Linked DNA regions of Homo sapiens: region 1 is linked to region 2. The links come from fine-mapping of genetic effects on plasma protein levels. Region 2 holds a variant in brackets. A gene starts in the other region. All regions are shown on their forward strands.

The links. PIP is the posterior inclusion probability: the model's chance that the variant is causal. Protein levels are from antibody-based Olink assays in UK Biobank. Linkage for the fine-mapping came from a reference panel and not from the study's own genotypes, which makes the PIPs less certain.
Region 1: it holds the start of BDNF, and the variant in region 2 is fine-mapped to the plasma level of the BDNF protein (UK Biobank, PIP above 0.99).

The regions. Positions count from the first base shown.
Region 1 is chr11:27,690,315-27,700,939 of GRCh38, forward strand. BDNF (brain derived neurotrophic factor) reads right to left here and starts at 10,141. Exons shown (of 2, transcript NM_001709.5): 1 at 9,850-10,141. It overlaps BDNF-AS (BDNF antisense RNA), which reads left to right. Exons shown (of 7, transcript NR_033315.1): 7 at 7,164-7,857.
Region 2 is chr9:110,544,708-110,555,708 of GRCh38, forward strand. SVEP1 (sushi, von Willebrand factor type A, EGF and pentraxin domain containing 1) reads right to left here. Exons shown (of 48, transcript NM_153366.4): 2 at 5,142-5,397; 3 at 1,408-1,584. Among named protein-coding and RNA genes, the nearest start is that of SVEP1, 30 kb to the right of the region's middle. The variant G/C (reference allele first, on the strand shown) is at 5,244.

The DNA of each region.
Region 1 (10,625 bases), not on the chromosome of region 2:
TGCCTGTCTGTCTTGCTTGGGAGTAAAAGAGAAGGCTAGGAACATGGCTGTAGGTTTGGTACTAGAAGAAAAGTGGGACCTATTCCGACTTCCTGATCCTGTGATTTTTTTCTTTTTTTGAGATTCACACACACACACACACACAAACTATGCACAAGTTTGCTTCCATGTTGTATAGCAAGAGTTTAAATATTTCTGAGTTAATGATGCCAAACTGTGCTCCGATTATATCAGCATATTTACATGATCCTTGAACACCACATATAGATTCCTATACTACACATTTAAGCAAAATCACCTCCTGACTTCACAATGAAAGAGACCTATTGGATTAAAAAGTGGTTTCTAGTAAACCCCAAAGAGATACTGTTACTAAATTACTAAATTTAAAGGCAAAATAGTATTCACTAAACTGATTTTTCTGTCTTATTTTCCTTATTTGGCATAATCATTAACCAACTTCTAGTAAATGGAAGCATTCTCACAATTTAAGTTTTTTTAGGGGGAAACACACAATTTATAAATACTGTCAAGTGAAGAACAGATTCCTGAATACTAAAAGACCCATGCATATCCTTGTATGTAAAAAAAAAAAAAATCCATCATAAAATCATAGACTCAAACACCATCTTTGATTCAGTAGTTCTCCCTCTACTGTGGCTTCTGCTATAGAGTCATTGTTAAAAAGAGTTCTTCATGAAAGATTCTCACATAGCAAAATGCTTTAAGAAAATGTCTAACAAACATTTTTATTGTCTCAATTTGTACACAAACTGACACCTGAAAATCAGAGAGGATAAAGAACTTCAATCTTTAAAAAAGAGAGGTAAGTTATTCCAAAATGCTACCAGTCAATAATTAAAAATACAGTTTGGGGGCAAGAAGTTCTGAAATAACTCAGAGAACTTGCTCAAGATTTTACTTTTGGACCAGTCCTCTTTGGGAGGGAGTATGTGAATAGGTAATGAAAGCCTTATATGAGAGAGTCAATGGAGAGCCATATCAAGGAGCACCTGAAGATATATGGATCAATACAGGGAAAAGAAATCCAAGTAGCCCAGTGCCTGACACTCACTGGGCACTCAATTAATGCACGGTGAATTAACAAATGAATTAATGAAAGAACCATTTGCTACATATAACATTCTTACTTTAAGAAAAAAGAATTTGAAACAGAAGAAAACATACACGCAAGAACACATACAAACTATAAACTATATGATATCCTAAAGGAGATGTAAATATTAAACTGTTTGCTTTGCTGACTGACACTATTAATACCTAAAAGCAGTATGAGAGATCACAAAGAATAAGTACTCATTCATACTTGGAGTGGGCTGCTCATCTTATGGTCTAACTTGCATTTTATGTCATGGCCATGTTGCTTAATCTCCAGCTGTTCTACAGAAGAGCAAAATAAGTTATAAATAAATTATTAAAGAAAAAAAGTAACTCTATCCATGCTGAGGCCTGAGGGAGTTGGGGGAGGAGTCAATTCCTTTTAGTTTATATTTAAAAAGAGAAACTCTTTGGAAAACTGTAATATCTGAAGATTTTGTGGTTTCCAAAAGTGAAGGTGAACGGTGAGAAGTTTTCTTAGTTTAGCTACTGAACCCTAAAAAAATATAACCTCAAAAGTTAATTTCTTAAGCAATTTGGGCACCTGAATTTGATAAGAACTTTTTTTTCCAGACATTCTGTTCTGTCTAACCCAAAGGAAAAATAGCCAATTTTGAGAATCTGTATACAAATAAGGAAAAGTAAAATACAGCGCTTTGCAAAGAAATGGGAGGGATTTCTGATACTCAATTCATGATGCTAAACACTTCAAGTAGATGATTCAAAGGCAGAAATATATAACTGTTCTCATTAGGATTGTTTATGGACTATAAATAAGGAGCAGACTTATGGCCAATGCATTAGAAAAAAACAAGTACAAAGGCACTTCAGAAAATACCTTACTCCAACCTCCCATTTTAGTGTCATTTCTAAAAGGGTTTCATTTCAGCCTTCCTACCTTTCTTCCTTCCTTCCCTTCCTTCCCTCCAACGGGGTCTCACTCTGTCACCCAGGCTGAAGAGCAGTGGGACAATCACGGCTCACTGCAGCCCCAACCTCCTGGGCTCAAACGATCCTACTGCCTCAGCCTCCCAAGTAGCTGGGACTACAAGTGCCTGTCACCAGGCTTGGATAATTTTTTTTGTCTTTTGTAAAGATGGGGTCTTGCTATGTTGTCCAGACTCGTAATGATCTCCTGGGCTCAAGTGATCCTCCCACCTCAGCCTCCCAGAGTGCTGGGATTACAGGCATGAGCCACCACACCAGACCTCTTTTTTCTTTATTATATATTCCTCTAATAAAGTGCTCTGTATGCAGTGAGCATTCAATATTTGCTAAATTAAATTAATGGAAAGTTTTCTAACTACCATGTAGAGTATCTAAATTTACATCATTGGTTCTAGAACTGCTGTCTGAAGCAACACAAATTACACTTATGACAGTTCGTCAAATCTTTGAAGCCCATCCTCAAAATAAGGATGTCAAAAATACATCACACATGTTGACACTCTAATCTCCCAGCCACAGTAGGCATTAGCAATCTGAATGTTATTTTTACTAATCCTTCACAGTTTTAGAATTCTTCTCAACCCAACATTCAAAAACCACTTGCCATTCCAGCCTAAGTTTTCTTGTCCCTAAGTCATGCATTCCAAGTCCCCTCAACCATTGCTCACATGCAATGCTTTCAAATTCCCTATGCATCCTGGTCACAGTGATTTGAATGTACACTAATTTATCGATGATGTACCTAAAACAACTTATTTCATTTCCTTGAACTGATGATAATATTCTAGATACAGTCTATTTAAAAAGTGAAGAATTATTAGCTTCTCCATTTCAGTATTATATTTCTAGCAGTGCAGCCCAAAATTTCAGTAGCTATGATAACAGCCTCTTGTCACACCACTGGCTTATACTGAACTTGCAGTTAATTTAAAACATTCAAGCTTCCTTTCTACAATCTGCTGATAAGTCATCCCCTAAAACCGTGCCCGCAACTCTCTATTCTCTCCTAAATTGATTTTTTTGTACTTAATCATAGTATTTTACATTTAAGTAAATGTAAATGATCCAGATTCTATCATTCAACAGAATGTCTGCAATATCTGCTGGCTTTATGTTTCATATGATAAGCATATCGTCTGTGCCTTCAGACACATTATCAGCCAACATGTCGGTGCTGGATGTATTTTCCCAATGTTGCATAAGAGGAATACCTTCGAGAGTTTGGCCTAGGAATGTGGCCTGGGACTCCGCCAAGCATCTCTCTCCAGCAAAATGACTGCAAATTTCTCGACCTTCAGATTCTACATGATGTAAAAGAAGTTTGTCTGTGTTTAAAAACACATTCAAGAAATAAGTGAACATGTGAAAAGACAGAAAAACTTGTTTTAATTTGGGCATAGTTTCAGTTTTCAAAGGCACATGAAGGCAGAAAGAAAGAATCACAAAATGGAACTACTGATGATAGCAACTCCAAAACCAAGACTGATTAGACTAAATCCCATGTGGCAAAAATTTTATTTAGTAAGTTTCCTTCTCCCTCTCTCCCTTTAGATATATGTGCATACACACACACGCACCTTTATTTTAGTAATTTTTTTTTTCTGAAAAAGAAAGTTTTCTGCACCTGATTGCTTCCATGAATAACACAAAGCACAAACAATATGACTTTCTTTGGTTATCATGCAATTTTTTCTCTGCTTACCAGAAATTGGCACAAATTTAAGATATACTATATTCTACTCCCTGAAGCACAGTCGCTGGCATCTCCACTGGCATTTAAAAATTTGAAGACATTTAAAAGAAAATCCACAAGCTTATAGTTGCTGTCTAAATCAACTTTAACATTTCATATATTCACAATTTCATAAGTGAATCAAATTACACATAAGAAATTATAGAACTAAGCCAACTAAATGACTTTTATAATAGGTACTGGGGAAAAATATTATTAAACCTTTTCCTCCAATTTCTGCCTTTCTTCCAGCAAGACAAACCATTTTCATGAAGTTTCTGTCTACATCACTAGTGATAATCTGAAGCAGCCATTAATCAATCTATTAGTGCATTCAGCAACATTTATCAAAGTGCCTCCCCAGAACTGTTTTGGATGCTGTTGTGGGCGCATGCAAAAATGAACTAAATATAGATTTTTGTCATCCAAGAATTTTAAGTCAATTTGTAATTATTGGTTCCTGGTTCCATAACTTTTTTTTTTTTTTTTTTTGGTGCTGGCTCAGATGTATACCTTCATCTATTCTAAGGTTAAGGCAATCCTTATAATTTTCTTCCTTTTTCTTGTTTGTTTGTTTTTTGTGTGTGTGTTTAAAATCTTGCTTATATTTGACTTTATTTTATTCTCACATCTTCTGAGTACATTAAAGTTAAAGGTAGATCATAAATCGAAAACATTCTTAAAGGTCTCTCTACTCAAATTATTTGGTGTTATTGTATCTCAGAAAGTATAATGAATTGCCTGTAGCAAATAAATAAAATCAGAACCTTTATACTCAATGGTTCGGTTTGGTACATATCCATGAAAATAATAAATGTTAAAAAGGATGCTAGCCGTTGATTCCTGGCATGCTATTCTACATTTGGCTACATTACAACGTTAAAAGGATTTAGTGCATATATCAAATTGTGGATCTGCTTGTTTTAAAATTTCATCTGTAATTCCACATGCAACCCCCACCCCCATACACACTCACAAGATCTGAATATGGTAACAAGGAAATCCTAGTAACTGTAGCGTTGGAAAAATGGTTCATATGGAAATAAGCCATTTGGCTAGTAAAGCTGGTGATTTTGTTCTCTAGGTGGCACTATTACTTCAATTTTTGGTGAGTTGCTTAAATTACTTGGAACTGCCCGTTTATTTTCTTTGAATTCCCATTTTATAAATTTTAATTTTATACAAGCTAGTTGTAATTAAACGACAGGTTGCCTTCTAGGTTTTATTTCAGTAAGTCAATTTGAAGTTCAGTGATTTTTTATCATATAATTTTATGTTTCCTTACTATACTGTCTTAGTTTTAAGAAATCCTCCCTTGCCTGACCTCCTCTCTCCAAAAATGCAGAGGCATGTCAAAAACACAGAGGGTCGTCATAAAGTTTCCGTCAGACCAAAGGAACCAAGATGAAAGCATGTTTAAGAGCTACTAGGTTCTGGGAGATTTCAAAATCAGGACATTACTACCATGACAACCAATGAAAAGTTCTTTCAAGTGAACCTTTGGGGAAAACTATATAACGTTCCTTACTCTCTAGGCTCTCTGGAAATAAACTTTTACTTTATTATGGCTGTCACTAAAGCTTGTAAATTTACTTTGCTTCCTTCCAATCGTTCTCCTGTCCCACACTCAGCCCCCTAACTCACTTAATGCAACCCATCCTCAAACATCAATCTATAAATGAGACATCAGGGCAATGAGCCACTTCTTAGCATCTAGTATATTTGATAAGATTTGTCTCATCAAGAGGATAAGTGCCCTAGAGCTTCTACTTGAACTTAAATACTTAATTTAAATGAAAGCTTCCACACTTATCTGACCAGATACTCAAATTTTTCTACAGAAAAGAGAATACCTTCCTGTTCCACTTAAAGAACACACACATTTACCACTCCCCCTCCTCTCCCCTGCAAAAGGTTTTCAATGTCAGTACATTAGTGAGCTCCATTTTGCATCTGCCATCAATAATGATTCCATATAGTCAATAATTGGGTTCATGACCTTTCTAAATCTTTACAGTGTAAATATTCTGGAAATCCAGTGAGGCACTTAAGTATAAAATTATTTAGGATTAAATAATTCTATGCCTTAAGTAGAAGTTTAAGAGGACGTTTAGGACACACATGACTAAGCCTACAAATACCAAAGCCACTCTATGTTTCCTAGGTTTAAATACCACATGCAAATAACATACGGATTTCATTTGCCAGCATCATTTATTGCCTAACATTACTCCATACTAAACAGAGTAAATGGATGCAGAGTGTAACCAGTAAGTTTGCTCATTCACTTTTGAAGCTCATCTGTGCATGTTATTCATCCTAATAAAGAAAATTTATCACAACACAACTTGATGCGATTCTTGTTCAAATGATTTCCTCTTCCATTGAACAACAGCCAGCACTTAAAACCTAGAATTCCACAGAATTCTCTCCTCGATTCCTCTTTAAAATGCAATTCACAGTTTGAGATCACAGAGCCTGCCAGTGGCTGAATGGCTGCACTAGATGGCTGAGAGTCCTTCAATTAAGCAACAATTTTGCAATTAGTGGAAACTGAGTGCTCTATAACAATTGTTTGAAAACAAGTTGAGACAAGTTAGCAATTACCCTATAAAAGGGACATATTCACTTTTGTTGGATAGGCGAGACCCCTCACACAAATTGAACTCTTCCACACAGGGAGATGCAAGTTGAAAATTAATGTTTTAATCACTAAAATCAAATCCATATTATGGGCACCTGAAATGGGAGTGCCTTTCTTCTCAAAAGATATTCAGAGTTTAGCTATCATCCACTCTCTATGCTGTCTGTTTTTATTCAGGAAGTCTGAAATTGTTCTTCTGTACTCCGGGATTAATTTCCTACATCTCAAAATGTTAATAAACTACTTGAACATGACCTTTCCATTCTGTAAATTTCCTTAAGAGTAAGTCTACGATTGAGACCCAAAGCTGCTGGCTGTGTTATATTTCACAGTTCACAGTTCTCTCTCTCTCTCTCTCCCCCTCTACACACACGCGCACGTGCACGCACACACACACACACACACACAGAGAGAGAGAGAGAGAGAGAGAGAGAGAGAGCACCCCAGGTTTTAGAAGATGAATGTAAAAAGAATGTAAACAAGTTCTCTGCTATACTATCAGGTGGGCGTGCCCAGCTCACTGTGCGTGCTGAACTACAAACCAGTGCTATTCATATAAGAAATGATATCAATCATCTACATTTTGACTATTGAAAAGCTGGGACTCTTAAAGATTCCAGGAAAAAGGGAATAGCTTACATTTTCATGGCGCCCCTTTTAAACAGGAAACCCACGGACTTTGAGCCAGGATTTTAGAAATTTGCATTTCTTTTTTTACAGGATTTTCCCTCCTGGTGAGTCAAAATGAACAAGAAATACCCCAGGACCTCCCTTCCCTCCTTGGCCATTAATGAGATGAAGGCAATTAACTCACATAGTATAAATGAATCATTTGAGGTGATGACTGCATTTTAGGCAAATGATGACTTTCTTGGTTCCATTGGTTTGCAAGTAAAAGTTACACACATTGAAAAGACACTGAAACAGATTTCCTAAATGCTTCATTTTCTGGATGCACCAATGTTGACCTACTATACATGTTAAATGGTTTTAAAATATCACCTTAAAATAAAGGAAACTTCCAGCTACTAACTCAGCTCTGAATGGGCTATGAAAGGCTCCAAAGGTATGTGAAAAATTACTGTTATTTTGCTTTAAAAAATGTGATGTCTAAGAGTGTCTGCAATGTTCTAATGCTTCAAAACATGTACGTAAGCCTTGTTTATCTGGAAATCATTTCTTTCTGCTTATATCATTTATAAATAGAAAATGTTCTGTAATAACTTAAAATAGTTCCACATACATAATGCTTTTAGTGTCATAATACTTACTACTGGTCTATATTTACCAACATTTATCACATTTTACAAAATGAAGTAGAAGAAAAAAAAGACAACGACTTTATGGCCCTGGAATTCCAGTAATGGTGACCAACATGTTTTAAATTCCAGTAAAGGTTATGGTTACATTTCAACAAGTGTCTCTTTCCTTTTTTTTACCTCTCCTGCTAACCCAGAGGTAAATTTCCCAAAAAAAAAAAAAAAAAAAAAAAAAAAAAAGTCTTAAGCAAGGCATTTGCAAAATCAGAAAACAGGAACAGGAGTTTAGTGATTGTTTTTAAAAGGTGCTGTTCCCAGGGTCAAAACTTTGTGGTGTAATTTCAACATGCTATGTTACCTATTATGTGTAATGCCTTGAAACGCTACATGCCATAACATCAGAAATCTCCAACCTAAAAATTATGTTGCATGAGATAAGCATTGAAGGCACACACGTTCATACAAATTAAATCTGTAATTATGCCTCAATAAGTTAAAATGTAAAGACATATCAAATTGTAAGACCAAAATGGCTTTTGACCTTACAACAAACTCATATAAAAATAGATTTTTCCATAATAATAAAGGGGAGAGAGAGATTTTGCAGGATATTGAGTCAGTAGGGAGGGGTCTCATTTAATATCATGTCGCCTTTTATATGCAGTTAGAAAATCAACGTTCCCAATTACATATTACTTTGCTTTAAAAGATTACTAGGAGGATTAATAAACACTCAGAAATATGCCTTTCTTTGCTTCTGGCCAAGAACATTCCTGCGTGCTTGTCGGAAAATGTTCTTTGGTTGCTACTGACATTAAGGAGTAAGTGCAGGATAACTAGAGGACCCTAAAATAAGATCCAAGAAGCCCTAACACACCGCCAATCGAGGCTTATCAAAGCTCCCCCAGCGCGAGGAAAACTTGCATAGAAGCCAAACAAGAACGAGGAGTCAAAATCCACCGACGACGAGTCGCACGCCCCACCGAGCTGGAGTCAGCAGCACCATTCAACAAGTCCCTCCTACCAGCTCTCTAAGGGATCCCGCAAAACCTTCCTTTACCACTTCCCCACCCCCAGCCTCCCGCCCCCAGTAGCTGCTCTTGGCAGCATGGCCGGCAGAGGGCACCCTCTACCTTCCCTAGCTTCGTTCTCTGGGTCCCCTCCTCCTCCTCGCCTCCCCTCCACCCCGGTCCCTCATCCCCGCTCTACCCCCAACACACAAACACTGCATCCTCCAGTTCACCCTCGCAGCCCCGAGGCTTCTTCCTTAGGGATGCCCCTAGTCTGTAATCTCCCCTTCTTCTTGCCCGTCAGGCACAGAGCCCCCAATCCTCAGCTATTTCTTTCCAGGAGTAACTCACTCACCCATTCCTCTTCCCGGCTCTGCATCCCCAGAGACTAACCCGAGTCAAGAATCCCCCACGTACATCCCAACCACTCCCCGAAAGTCAAAACTCTTAACTTCCCTGGAGGGCGCTTCAGAAGAGGGGCGCAGGATGGGTAGAGATGTGGGTTCGGCCTGCCCGAGAGTGTCGCAGACCCTTTCAGTTCCCAGCGGTAGGAATTCCGCCTCCCAAGTTTTCCAAGCTACATTGGCTTCGGACTTGTAAGTCCACTTCAGTCTCAATTCCTGGGGAGCAGGTAGCCGTGTGCAGCTCCGGGGAAGGGATGCGGGCTGAAGGCGCAAGCTTCCCTCCCACTCCCCCCGCAAGTCGGCGCGGGGACCACCCACCCCCTGGAAGGATTCCTAGCCTAGCCCCAGCACCCTCCCCTCAGTCAGGACCCTCGACAGCTCTGGCCCCCTAAGTCTCTCTCGACTACTCCTGGGCTGGGGGAGGGCTGCGAGGGATCCCCGGGTCGCCGTCTTTGCTCCCATCACGCAGCTCTGGGTCTCCTCCAGGCCTTCCCTCCTCTACTTCGTGACTTCCCCGGGTCCCTTTTTCCCTGGTGGTGCCGGCTGACCTTCTGGGTTGTGGGATGGGGGAGAAAACTCCCCAAGAGTAACTCCAAATCGTCCCTTCTACCGGAGGGGAGGAAAGAAGGAGACTGGCCTCGTCCCACAACTTTGGGGTGGGGGATCCCCCAGTCAACTCTCTCCCGCGGACGGGCAGCTCCTGCACCAAGCCCCATTCCCAGCGCTTGCCTACCTCGGGGTCCACACAAACCTCACGGGTCCCCGGCGGCGGAGTCACATCGTGGTTCCGATTCTGGCTCCAGCGCCCAGCCCCGGTCCCCGTCGCGGTGCTGCTCCCCGCCGGCCCCACAGCAGCGGTGGGTGTCTCATTAAAGCCCCCCGAGCAGGAGGTGGAGGGGCGCACCGGGCTGGCTCCTCTGTCCGGCCCGGGAGCCCGAGGCGCTACGGGGTGCGCGGGACAGCGAGCGGGCGGGTGCGCCCGGGCGCGGCGGCGGCAGCGTCGGGGACCCGGAGCTCCAGGCTGCGCCTTGCGCCCGGGTCAGACATTATTTAGCTCTTCGGTTGAGCTTCGATTGGTCAAACGGCGCCGCCCCCCCCCCCCCGCCCCCCGCCCCCCGCTCCCCGCTCGCCCGCGCTACCGATACCCGTTCGAGGCGGCCGCTTAAAGGGAACGCCGCGTCTTTTCCTCGCGCGGGGAACCGAGGGGCGCCCGGAACTCCCCGCTCCCCCGGGGCCTGTCCTCACCTCCTCCCCTAGGGCCCCGCGACATCGCCCTGCGAGTCCTGCGCCCTCCTGGGGCGCCTTGGACAGGACGCCCGCGGCTTCGAGGGGTGTTCCAGCCCCAGCCTCAGCCCCGGGGAACCCCGCGTCCCGCGCCCTCTGCAGAAACCCCGGCTGTGGGCGCTGGGGCGGGAGGGAGCGAGTGAGAATCGCACGCCCCGAGGTCTCGCTCCCCTAGCTTTCAACTCTCCCCTTCCTCCCCATCCCAGCACCCAAGTTCTCTGGGAG
Region 2 (11,001 bases):
GTAATGATCACATTATGACAATTACCATATCTGTCACCTCAATTATCATTTATTCGTGTTGGGAACATTCGAATCCTCTCTTCTAGCTATTTGAAGATGTACAATAAATTATTTGTTAACTATAGTCACCCTACAGTGTTATGGAACATTAAAACTTATTCCTCCTATCTAGTAGTAATTTATATCTGTTACCCAACTTCTCTTCATCCCCCATACCTTCTACCCTTCCCAGCCTCTAGGAAGCACTCTTCTCCTTTCTAATTCTACGAGATCAAATCTTAAAAATTTCCACATATGAGTGAGAACATGTGGTGTTTGTCTTTCTGTGCCTGACTTGTTTCACTTAACAACTCCAGGCTCACCCACGTTGCCACGAATGATAGGATTTCATTCTTTTTTTATGGCTGAGTAGTCTTCCATTGTGTATATAGACCACATTTTCTTTATCTGTTCTTCCATTGAATAGACCCTGAGGTTGATTCCATATCTTGGCTATTATGAATGGTGGTACAAGAAACATGCATATGCAAATATCTCTTTGACATACTGAATTCCTTTCCTTTGAATATCTGCCCAGTAGTGGGATTGCTGGATCATATGGTAGTTCTCTTTTTAGTTTTTTGAGGAACCTCCATACTGTTTTCCATAATGGCTATGCTAATTCACATTCCCACCAACAGTGTTTAAGAGTGCCTCTTTCTCTCCATCCTTGCCATCATTTGTAATTTTTTGTCTTTTTGATAGTAGTCATTCCAATTCCATTTCGAAGTGATGGCAGTTTTAGAACTTTTCAATGCACTTTTGTGGAGGCTCCTGAAGAGTTTAAAAAGCCATCAAGTGAAGGATGCATTTTTTTATGTGTAAATCTTACCAGTTACATGTGGCCTGGGGACAAGAATTCCACTGGCTTCAATCTCATAGAGAGATTGAGGCACATTTTGGTTTACATGCCTAGAGGACAGATTTGGCTGTTTTATTAGACTAATTACAAAGACCCCAAATCTTTCTCCTCCCAGTTCTGAACCTAGGCTTCAAGGGGCCTTACAAGCTTCCATTCTTCTTCTTGGAACCCTGCCGTCCCCACCTGAACAAGCCTGGGCTAGCCTGATGGAGTATGAGAGGCCACATAAAGGACAGCCTTGTTGTCCTAGACAAAGCCATTTTAGGTCAGACTATTGTCAGACACCCAAACACATAAGAGAATCCAGCTGAGATCAGCCAGCAGCCTACTCAACTCACCGCTGATGGCAAATAAATGAGTCAGCACAGCTGAAGCCCCAAAGAGATGTGCCACTGACCCCACACACTAATGAGCAATAACAAGCATGTATTCCTTATAGCCATTGCATTTTAGAATCATTTGTTACACAGCAACAGACAACTGATATACACAGATTGGAGACTCACCTGTGCATTCATACTGCAGACCTTTCCCGTAATACCCCTTTTCACAGATGCACTCAAAATGGCCTGTGTGTGTCCCACATTTGCAGCTTCCCATTCGGTCACAGCAGTCCTTGCCTTCATCACAAAGATATGAGCAGTGGACCATATCATCTTGAATAAAACTCCCAGAAGGTAGATCTACAAATAACATATGACAGAGGGCGATAAAAATGAGTCACAGTTCAATGTTACATTCTCTGGTCATTAAAATTTAAGTGCAAGCTGGAGAAAATATCTTTCCATATCCCTCTAATTCCCAACTGCTTCCTGCTCCCACCCAAATACGAATGTGTGTTATTTGTACTAGCGCGCTCTGGGAATTCGTTGAAGCCAGTTAAGTTATTCCAGTCTGGGACCTCATCATAAGTTCTCAAGGCCATTCAGGGTCAGGCAGAAATTAAGTAGTGTAGTGAGGAATCTCCAGATGCTGCAGGAAACAGTGCAGTCAGTTCTGCAGGTCATTCCCCTGGCTTCCAAAGCAGCAGCATTCCACTGCCTCTGGGTGAGGTCAGGCCCCAGCAACGAGTCCCCAGATCCTTGTTCCAATGAGAAACAAAGCCACCATCCTGATCACTGCACAGAGATGTTAATTGTGAGCCACCAACTTTGGAATAAACACTGTCACTTCTATGGTATTTGAGTAGGTAAATAAAGACCATTCTTATTACTTGAGCCATGCTCTGAAGTGAGGCATGCTGGGAATGCAATAACTCAGGCAGACCTGTTTAGAAAGTGACTTGACAGGGTGGGTAAGGTTGAATATGATTGACCCAGAATGGATGGCCTAGAATCACACAAACAGTAAGTCCTTTATTCTTTTCAAGAAGTTTGAAAGTTTTAGACTAAATTCCAATACTAGGTCCATGGGGCTCTAAGCCCAGATATTGTGATGGGCTTATAGTAGGAATTCAAGTGGGTGAGTTCCAGCAAGACACACGGGCTGCAATTGGACACCTTGGAAGGAGATTGGTGGTAGACTCAAATATAGAACATCCATCTCCATGCATCTAGATAGGGGCAAAGCAAAGGGAAGATTCCAGCCCCAAGGGAAAGAAACCAGTGCAACCAGGTACCCTGGTAAGCTCCTTCCAATAGACTGTGGTGTGGGTAAAAGATCTGTAACACAGGCCCTTAGGACTCAGCTCTGAGACACTGGACCACAGGTTTATTTGGCAGTAAAGCAAGTTAGGGAGCAAGGAAAACCTACTTGTCCAGCCTGGGTAATGCAGTGAGACCCTGTCTCTACAAAAACAATAACAATTTTTAAAAAAATTAGCTGGGCATGGTGGTACATGCCTGTTGTCCCAGATACTTGGAAGACTGAGGTGGGAGGATCACTTGAGCCTGGGAGGTGGAGGCTGCAGCGAGGTGTGATCACACCACTGCACTATATAGCCTGTGTGACAGAATGAGACCCTGTATCAAAAAGGGTGAGAAGAAAAGAAAAGACAAACATAGCTGTCAAGACTAGTGTACCAGCATTCAGGTCTGGAAGAGAGATAAGTGGAGGAGGTACAAATGGGGAAAGCTATTATTCTGTAACCTATGTCTATCGAGAATGGCCAGAAACATGAACAGCAGTGAAACCCAAAGTGGATCCATCTAAATTGAAAGTAGCTGCAGAGAACACAGAGGCAGGGGAAATGAGGCTCATTTCCTTTGATCTGATCATGTCTTTCCAGTAAAAACAGGGTTTTACTTACTAAACCTAGAAACTCAACTAAAGTATTACACATTTTAGATATTAGTTTAGTGTAATAAATGTGGTGTCTCCTAAAACCCTATTGCATTATGATAACCAAAACCCTTTCCTTGTTGACTCTAGTTTCTGGGTCAACTTCCATCAGGACAGAAGTCTCCACTCCTAGAAGACAGAGGGATGACAGGAGCTGAAATTTGTTGATAGCACTCATAATTTCATAATCCCATCTGGCAACACCCAGTATCTCCAACTGCAACCACCCTGTTTTCCCTCTTAACATATCACTTTCCTTGGAGAAAAGGAGAAATAAAGGTAGCCAGTTGCTGAACTTCTTCCATGTGCTACATACTATATTGGTGATGTTTTAAATATCTTATTTAATCCTCCTGAAAACCTCTGTGATACATATAATAATAGTTTCCATTTTTAAAGGAGAGAAAACTGAGGTTCATAGTTGTTAAATAAATTGCCTAGGGGAATTAATAATGATAATTTGTTAATAAATAATAAATATCAGTAATAGTAGACAGTTATTGAGTGCTGAGTATAACAAGCCATCAGGAACTTTCTCATCCCTTTATATGTATTAACCCATTTAATCCTTGTAACAATTTTATGAAGTAGGTACTATTCTCATTTCCTATTCTATTTACAAGAAACCTAAGGAATATAAAAGATGAATGATATGTAAAAACAAAACAAACAAACAAAAAAACAGAAAACGTCAGCTAGTAGGTAACAAAATCGGGATTTAAATCCAGACATTCTGGATTTTTAAGGCTTAGCTCTTAAAAATTAGATTTCATTAAGTTGCAGGCCTGGAACTTAGATCCAAACCTGTTTAAACGCAAATCCATACTTTATTTCCCATACTCAGTTTCTTGCTGCTTCTAAGCCCTGTCCTAAGTCCTTGCTCACTTCACTAAAATCCCAGCCTCCAAAAACTTTGGCCAGCATCATCCCTCAGAGAGATAAATCTTTTTTGCTTTATGCATGGTGGCTCATGTCTGTAATTCTAGCACTTTGGGAGGCCCAGGTGGGAGAAATGCTTGAGCCCAGGAGTTTGAGACCAGCCTGAGCAACATAGCGAGACACCATCTTTATTTATTTATTTTTTTTAAAAAGAAACTCCAGTAGAGCTAACCCACTTATTATGAACATCACTAATTTCTTAGAACTCATGTTGCCATGGTTTTCCCCTCAAACTGAATCTTTCACATGGATATCTGCAAGGATCAAGCCTAATTTGCCATATCACTTTAATCTGAGGCTAGATTTCCTGTGATTTCTTCCTAGTCTGTATTTTCTTCTCCTAGCTCACTAAGACATAAACCTATATTCTGATAGGAAGTTTAATTTATATTACACAGCTAACTTATTATAATGTATAATTATGATTTAATTTTTAAATTATAATTTATAATTAAATTATAAGTGATGCACAGAAAGCTCTAATAATGATACATTTGCTGATTTCCTTCCCTTTTAGGGTTAATGCTCTTAAGCTTTTACATAAGCATATCTATCTTCAAATGGTCAGGGCAAGAAGTATGTGTTAAGTATTTATTGTTCCTGTATCTTCATGTGTATTTCTGGAAACATTCTGGTAAGTTTCACTGAGCATGTCTCTGAATGTTTACTTCCTCTGTCCAGATAACTGTAAAGAGATCTAAGTCAAGGCTTCCCACTCTGTGTGTGGCCTCAAAACACACCTAAATTCATTCCACTGATTCTAAGGTGGGAGCATATGGATATTTTAGTGAAAACACATAACAGCTGCTAAGAAAAAAAACAAAAGGAACTCTTGTTGCAAGGTCAGAATGTCATCTCTGTGAAGTTCAGCACATTTCATGATGCCCAAAGGACACATGGGCATCATATTCAGCAAAGACCTTGTGAGAGTTTGATATTACCCTCCCATGGGTTTCAAGCAGTGAGAGGCAAGGAAGCCTCATTTAAAAGTACCTTTGTGATGCCATTAGGTTTCCATTACCTTCATGCAATGCCCGGCGAGCTAAAGCCTCAAATTCTTCAAAACTGTGTAGCAGGTAACAGTGCTCCTCCTTTGGGGTGGAAGCCATGTCATTCAGCTCTC[G/C]AATGTTCCCTTGCCATATGCCAAAAGTGAAGATCTCCACTCCTGAATCTCGCAGTGACGCTGCAATTGGTCTAGGGTCTCCCCCATTGGAATATCCATCAGTGATGAGAAATACAACTTTTGTTGAGTTTTCTCTAGCATGAAGAAGAATTTGCTGTAATGAAATGGGGAAAGTTAATATGAGTGTGTACTGTCTTGCCTACTGTGTGCTTCTCTTCTTACGTAAGGCAGTACTTGCAAAGATCATTAGTATTTCACAGGCATGAGGGATGGAAGCCCTAGTCAGAGTAAAACAGAAATAGGCACAGATGAGAGCCTACAATGATCTTCTCACAGAGCCACAATAAACCTCAAAAGCATTTAAAAACTATCATCCTCATCAACATTGCTGATGGAGCTTGCTAATGAAGTACAACAAACACTTATGGAATGAATTTTTAATCAATATTATCACTTATTATTATATTATTTTTATTGATTCTCAGGCTCTCAAAATATGAACAAAATCTGAATCCAAATTCCACAAATTATCTATCTATCTATCTATCTATCTATCTATCTATCTATCTATCTATCTGTCTATCATCTCTATCCAAACCACTGCATGGTCATACACCAAAATCCTAATGGGAAGGAAATTTAACAGAACATGTCTTTTCCAGAGTCAATAATGGCTGACCTGCTTCCTATATTTGTTTTTCCACTTGCTCCTCCAAAAAATGTAGAATTGATTCAATACTTCATCTTTTTGGACCACCCGGTACTAGCATAAAAATAGCTAGTTTTGGTGGTATCCAGAAATACTGATTCACTAAATCTGACACTGGGACTTTATTATTTTAGGACAAGTGAATTCTGTTTTACAATGATATATGCTCTTCCTTCTCTACAGATAGAATTTTAAAAAATGAAACCTTTTAAAAAGACATTTATATATTGCCATTGATGCTTTGTAACACCAGACTATAAAGGCACAAGAACTCCAGTGGTGAATCTGGCATTTAATTCAATTTGCTGTTGTTGCTTTTCACTACAGATGAGTAGAAAAGATAAAGAAGCACCAGGGTATATTTTCTGGTAAGTTCTTAGAAGAAATTCCTATTAAAAAATAAATTAATTTTTAAAAAAGAACTTCATGTTTATTCCGCAAGAATTCAAGAAACACTACATGTTTTTCAGAAGGTAGGCAGGAAGAGTGACAACTGCATCCTATGTTGTGTTAAAGTGAAAAGGAGATATTGTGATTTTTAAAATGTTTGATACAATTCACTTTAGGGTGCAGACTCACTATAAGATCCAGATTCTCTCAGACTATGAGATCCAGATTCTCTCAGACTATGAGATTCATGTCCGTAGAAAGCAATCTTCATTAGTATATAATCAGTGGGTATTCATTACAATTCAATAATTCTTACCTAAATTTAGTTAGTGTTTGTGAGGCAAAGCTAAAGCTGCTAAACCTGAATTTAAGGAAAATTAAATGAAACTAACAATGCCTCCAGAAATATCTGGAAAGCCAGCAGTTTGAGAAGAGGTATTCAAACATTTCACCACACTCTTTCTCAAAAATCAAATGAGATCAAGGAAAATCGTACAGATGGGACCACACCAAAGACAGGCACAGAGGGTGGCTTCTGCGACGGAGTAGCATTCGGGACGTTACTGGAGACATTCCCCAAATAAACACACCAAGAAGCCCAATCAACACTCTCAAAATTCTTGGCTCTTAAAGTTTAAAAAGCTGCCCTCTTGATGAATGACAGGAAGATTTGGAATGAATGCTTGGTAAGTGTGAAATTTTTCCACACTCCAGAGAAGAAAAAACCTCTGAGGAGAGGAAGAGGGAAAGAGTTAGGGGAGAATGAGAAATGTGAGATGTTGCTGTGAGACCCTGAACTCTCCACACTCTCTCCACACCCCTAACTCTGTCACAGAAGAGATGATTGACAAGCCTCCCTTTAGGCATAGAGGTCCCCAGGTCCTCTTTCCATCTGGATATCTGGGATGGTGGTACATCCCAAAGAAGTGCCCTTGGTCATAATGACAGCGGACAATAGAGCAGTGGTACCCAACCTTTTTTTTTTTTTTTTTTTTTTTTTGAGTCAGAGTCTCACTCTGTCACCCAGGCTGGAGTGCAGTGGTGCGATCTCGGCTCACTGCAACCTCCGCCTCCCAGGTTCAAGCGATTCTCCTGCCTCAGCCTCCCGAGTAGCTGGGACTACAGGCACATACCACCATGCCCAGCTAATTTTTGTATTTGTAGTAGAAACAGGGTTTCATCATGTTGGCCAGGATGGTCTTGATCTCCTGACCTCGTGATCCACCTGCCTCAGCCTCCCAAAGTGCTGGGATTACAGGCGTGAGCCACCACGCCCTGCCACATGAGCCACCACGTCTGGCCAGTCCCCAAACTTTTTGGCACCTGGGACCAGTTTCCTGGAAGACAATTTTTCCATGGAGTGGAATGGGGCTGGAGGACAGTTTCAGGATGATTCAAGCACATTATATTTATTGTGCACTTTATTTCTATTATTTTTACACTATAATATAGAATAAAATAATTATACAACTCACTATAATGTAGAATCAGTGGGAGCACTCAACTTGTTTTCCTGCAACTAGATGGTCCCATCTGGGAGTGATGGGAGACAGGGACAGAGTGCACAACTTAGATCCCTCGCATACAGTTCACAATAGTGTTCACGCTCCTATGAGAATCTAATGCTGCCGCTGATCTGACCGAAGGCAGAGCTCAGGTGGTAATGCTCACTTGCCCACTGCTCACTTCCTGTTGTGTGGCCCAGTTCCTAACAGGCCATGGATCAGCATCAGTCCACGGCCTGGGTACTGGGGCCCCCTGCAGTAGAGTAAAACTACTCCATTGGGTGGTAAAGGAGAGGGCACCTGAAGAAGCTTATGTATTCCAGAGAGGTATAGCAGAGAAAGAATCAATGCAATTTTAAGACACCTGAAGGAGTCTTGCAATAATAAAGGTATGGCAGTAGATGACACCACAGACCTTGTGAGCCAAGAAGAGATGTGTCTCTCTTGGGCAATATCCATGGGAAGAGATCCTGGAAGCCGCAGGAGATAGCTGCATTAAAGGTTATGAAACTAACCAACAGACATGCGGATGACCAACAAAGACCATCATGACTATTGATGAGACAACTGGGCATCTCAGAGGATGGCAGCACAGGACATGTCAGAGCTGAGAGGTAAGTATCTCTTCCTTTGCTGTAACTTTGCCCAAGCCCCAGAGCTTCACGTCAACTACAGGGAGGAAGGGAAGAGGTAATATTTCTCAACGTGACTTTGTTTTCAAAAGTGCAGTGCTTGAGAGCCTTCTGATTTTGAGTTTGCTTAGATGTGCCTACGTGAGGTTTCTGTCATCAGGAGAACTGGGGTCACAAAATGTAAATTAAATTTAGTATTGGGGAAATAGAGATTAAAAAATTTTAATCAGCAGATAGTGAATTTGTTTATCTTTTACAAACACAGTTTCTCTTCCTGATGAAACCCTGTGATATCTTGGAAAGTAAATAGAGAAAACTTTTTGGAATCCTGCCATCACCACCTATTTAGAAGGAGAGGCAAGGGCTAGAGATGAAGGCCAAGGCTGGGAGAGAAGGAGGTCACTTTAACCCCTCTGCGACACAGTTCAAAGATATCCAGGGGAGACAGGCCCAGGTATTTCAAGGCCAAGGATGGCTTCAAACAGAAGCCCAGTCTTCTCCCTAACTGTAACTTCCTTGAAGGCAGGTATTTTTGTGTATTTTTTAAAGTCATAAAAACCCAGAGACTAGAACAGTGCTTGACAAATGATACGCGCTTAATAAATATTTGTCACTAAGGAGTGGCCCATCGTGCAGCAATTCTTCCAGTTGCTCGAGCAAAAACCTTGGAATCATCCTTATCTCCTGTGTCTTCCTGTATCTTGCTTTAAAAAGTTTCCCCACCGCAAGCCTATTAAATATTCTCACATACTTTTCCTTAATGCTTATATTTTTAAAATATTTCTTAAGTCCAAATAGATATCTTTTGTCTTTGCTGTGACATAGAGACTACTTTTACTTTTATTAAACAGGATAAGCAATTTTCCTGCAAATTATTTACTGATTAAACTGTTCTTTCCCTGGGTATAATCTCTGCATCCAGGTTACTTGCTCTACTTGCTTATTCTTGGCCTACACCACCCGTCTCGGCTGCTATAGCTTTATACTATTTTTTTTTGTATCTGGTAAGGAAAGTCTACCACCTTTTTTTCTCTCTATTAAAATGTTTGTGGTTAACTTTGATTTTTTCTTTTCCAATAGAGCTTGAGAGTCTGCTTATGAAATTCTTCACTAAAATGTTTCTATCTCATCATTTGATCCAGTAATCCCACCTCTAGGAATCTATCCCAAAGATACACTGGCAGATACACAAAAATGGACAGACCAAGGACCAGCCCCAGTAGAAATGGGCATCTCTAAAGCCCCCTACTGTGGTCTCCAAATACTATTACCCACTAAAAGGAACCAGGAATTGGTGAAGAAATGGTTGATTTTAGGTCTATGGCATGGAATGTTCAAAATGAGTTTGCAACATCCTCTCATGTCAGAAAACAAAGATGCTGTTCAAGAGCCCTAAAAACATGCCCAGAAGAATCAGGAGCCAGCCTGAAGAGGCTCCTTCTGGCAAAATAAAGGTCATTTTGAGTATCAATAAAAATAATTGAAATGGATTTAAATGTATCAAGTATAATATAGACATTTATGTGTATGTATAGATGTGCGTGTGTGTGTGTGTGTGTGTGTGTGTATGTATGTATTTACATTTTCAGTTAGTACACATTCCAGGGGAAAAGTGTTATTGACATAAATAATACTTGGAACAAAGTGAAATATGCATACACAAATACACACACATTTTTGTTGTTGTTGTTCAGAACCACCTTTGAGGAAAAGTCCAATTATCTGTTATGATTGAGATGAAATGAGACATTATTTGTCTTTAAAATTATACTTTTCCATATTCGAAGGGTAACTCCTAGTTGTAGTATGCCAAGAGGTGGAAAGTTGTGTTTACACCATCCTTGCTCTTTACCAAGTAATAAACTTGCTTTCTGTCTGAGTTGTTCCCCTCTGAAGTCACAGTCTCACCTCCACGGACACCCACCCTAAGCTTGTGCTCATTTTGATTACTGCTTCTTCTACAAGGTCACAGCAGTTAACTGTAAGCAAGACATTAAAAACGTGAGAATTTTCCTAGAAAGGAGGAGAAGTGGGGAAAAAAAAAAAAAAGGAAATTGTCTCTTCAGTGTGATATTCTCAATAGTGCCGGGCACAGAGTACATGTTCATAACTATTTCTTCAATGAATGAATGAATGAATGAGTGCAGTGGATAAACTACAGGATAGTCTGGAGCAGAGTTACTTGAATGAGTTGGTCTTGAGTGAGTAGTTAGTGTGTCTGGGTACATGCACGTGTGTATGTTTTGTATAGTTTTGTACACCAAAGATAAAATTATGTGCGCCTTTATTGTCCTTCTGAAACAAATGAATGCTATTTTTAATATTAATGTAGCTCCTGTCAATAACATTCTTTAACATCCACATTAGGATTTAGCAGTGATTTCTTGCTGTACTACTCATTACACACAAAACACTTCAAGCCATGATTCTATTTTTCTTCTCTTTTTACAGAGAACTGGTGAATATTTACAGGAAACATTACATCTGTTGGCAAGACAATATATTAAGCTTAAAATAGCAAG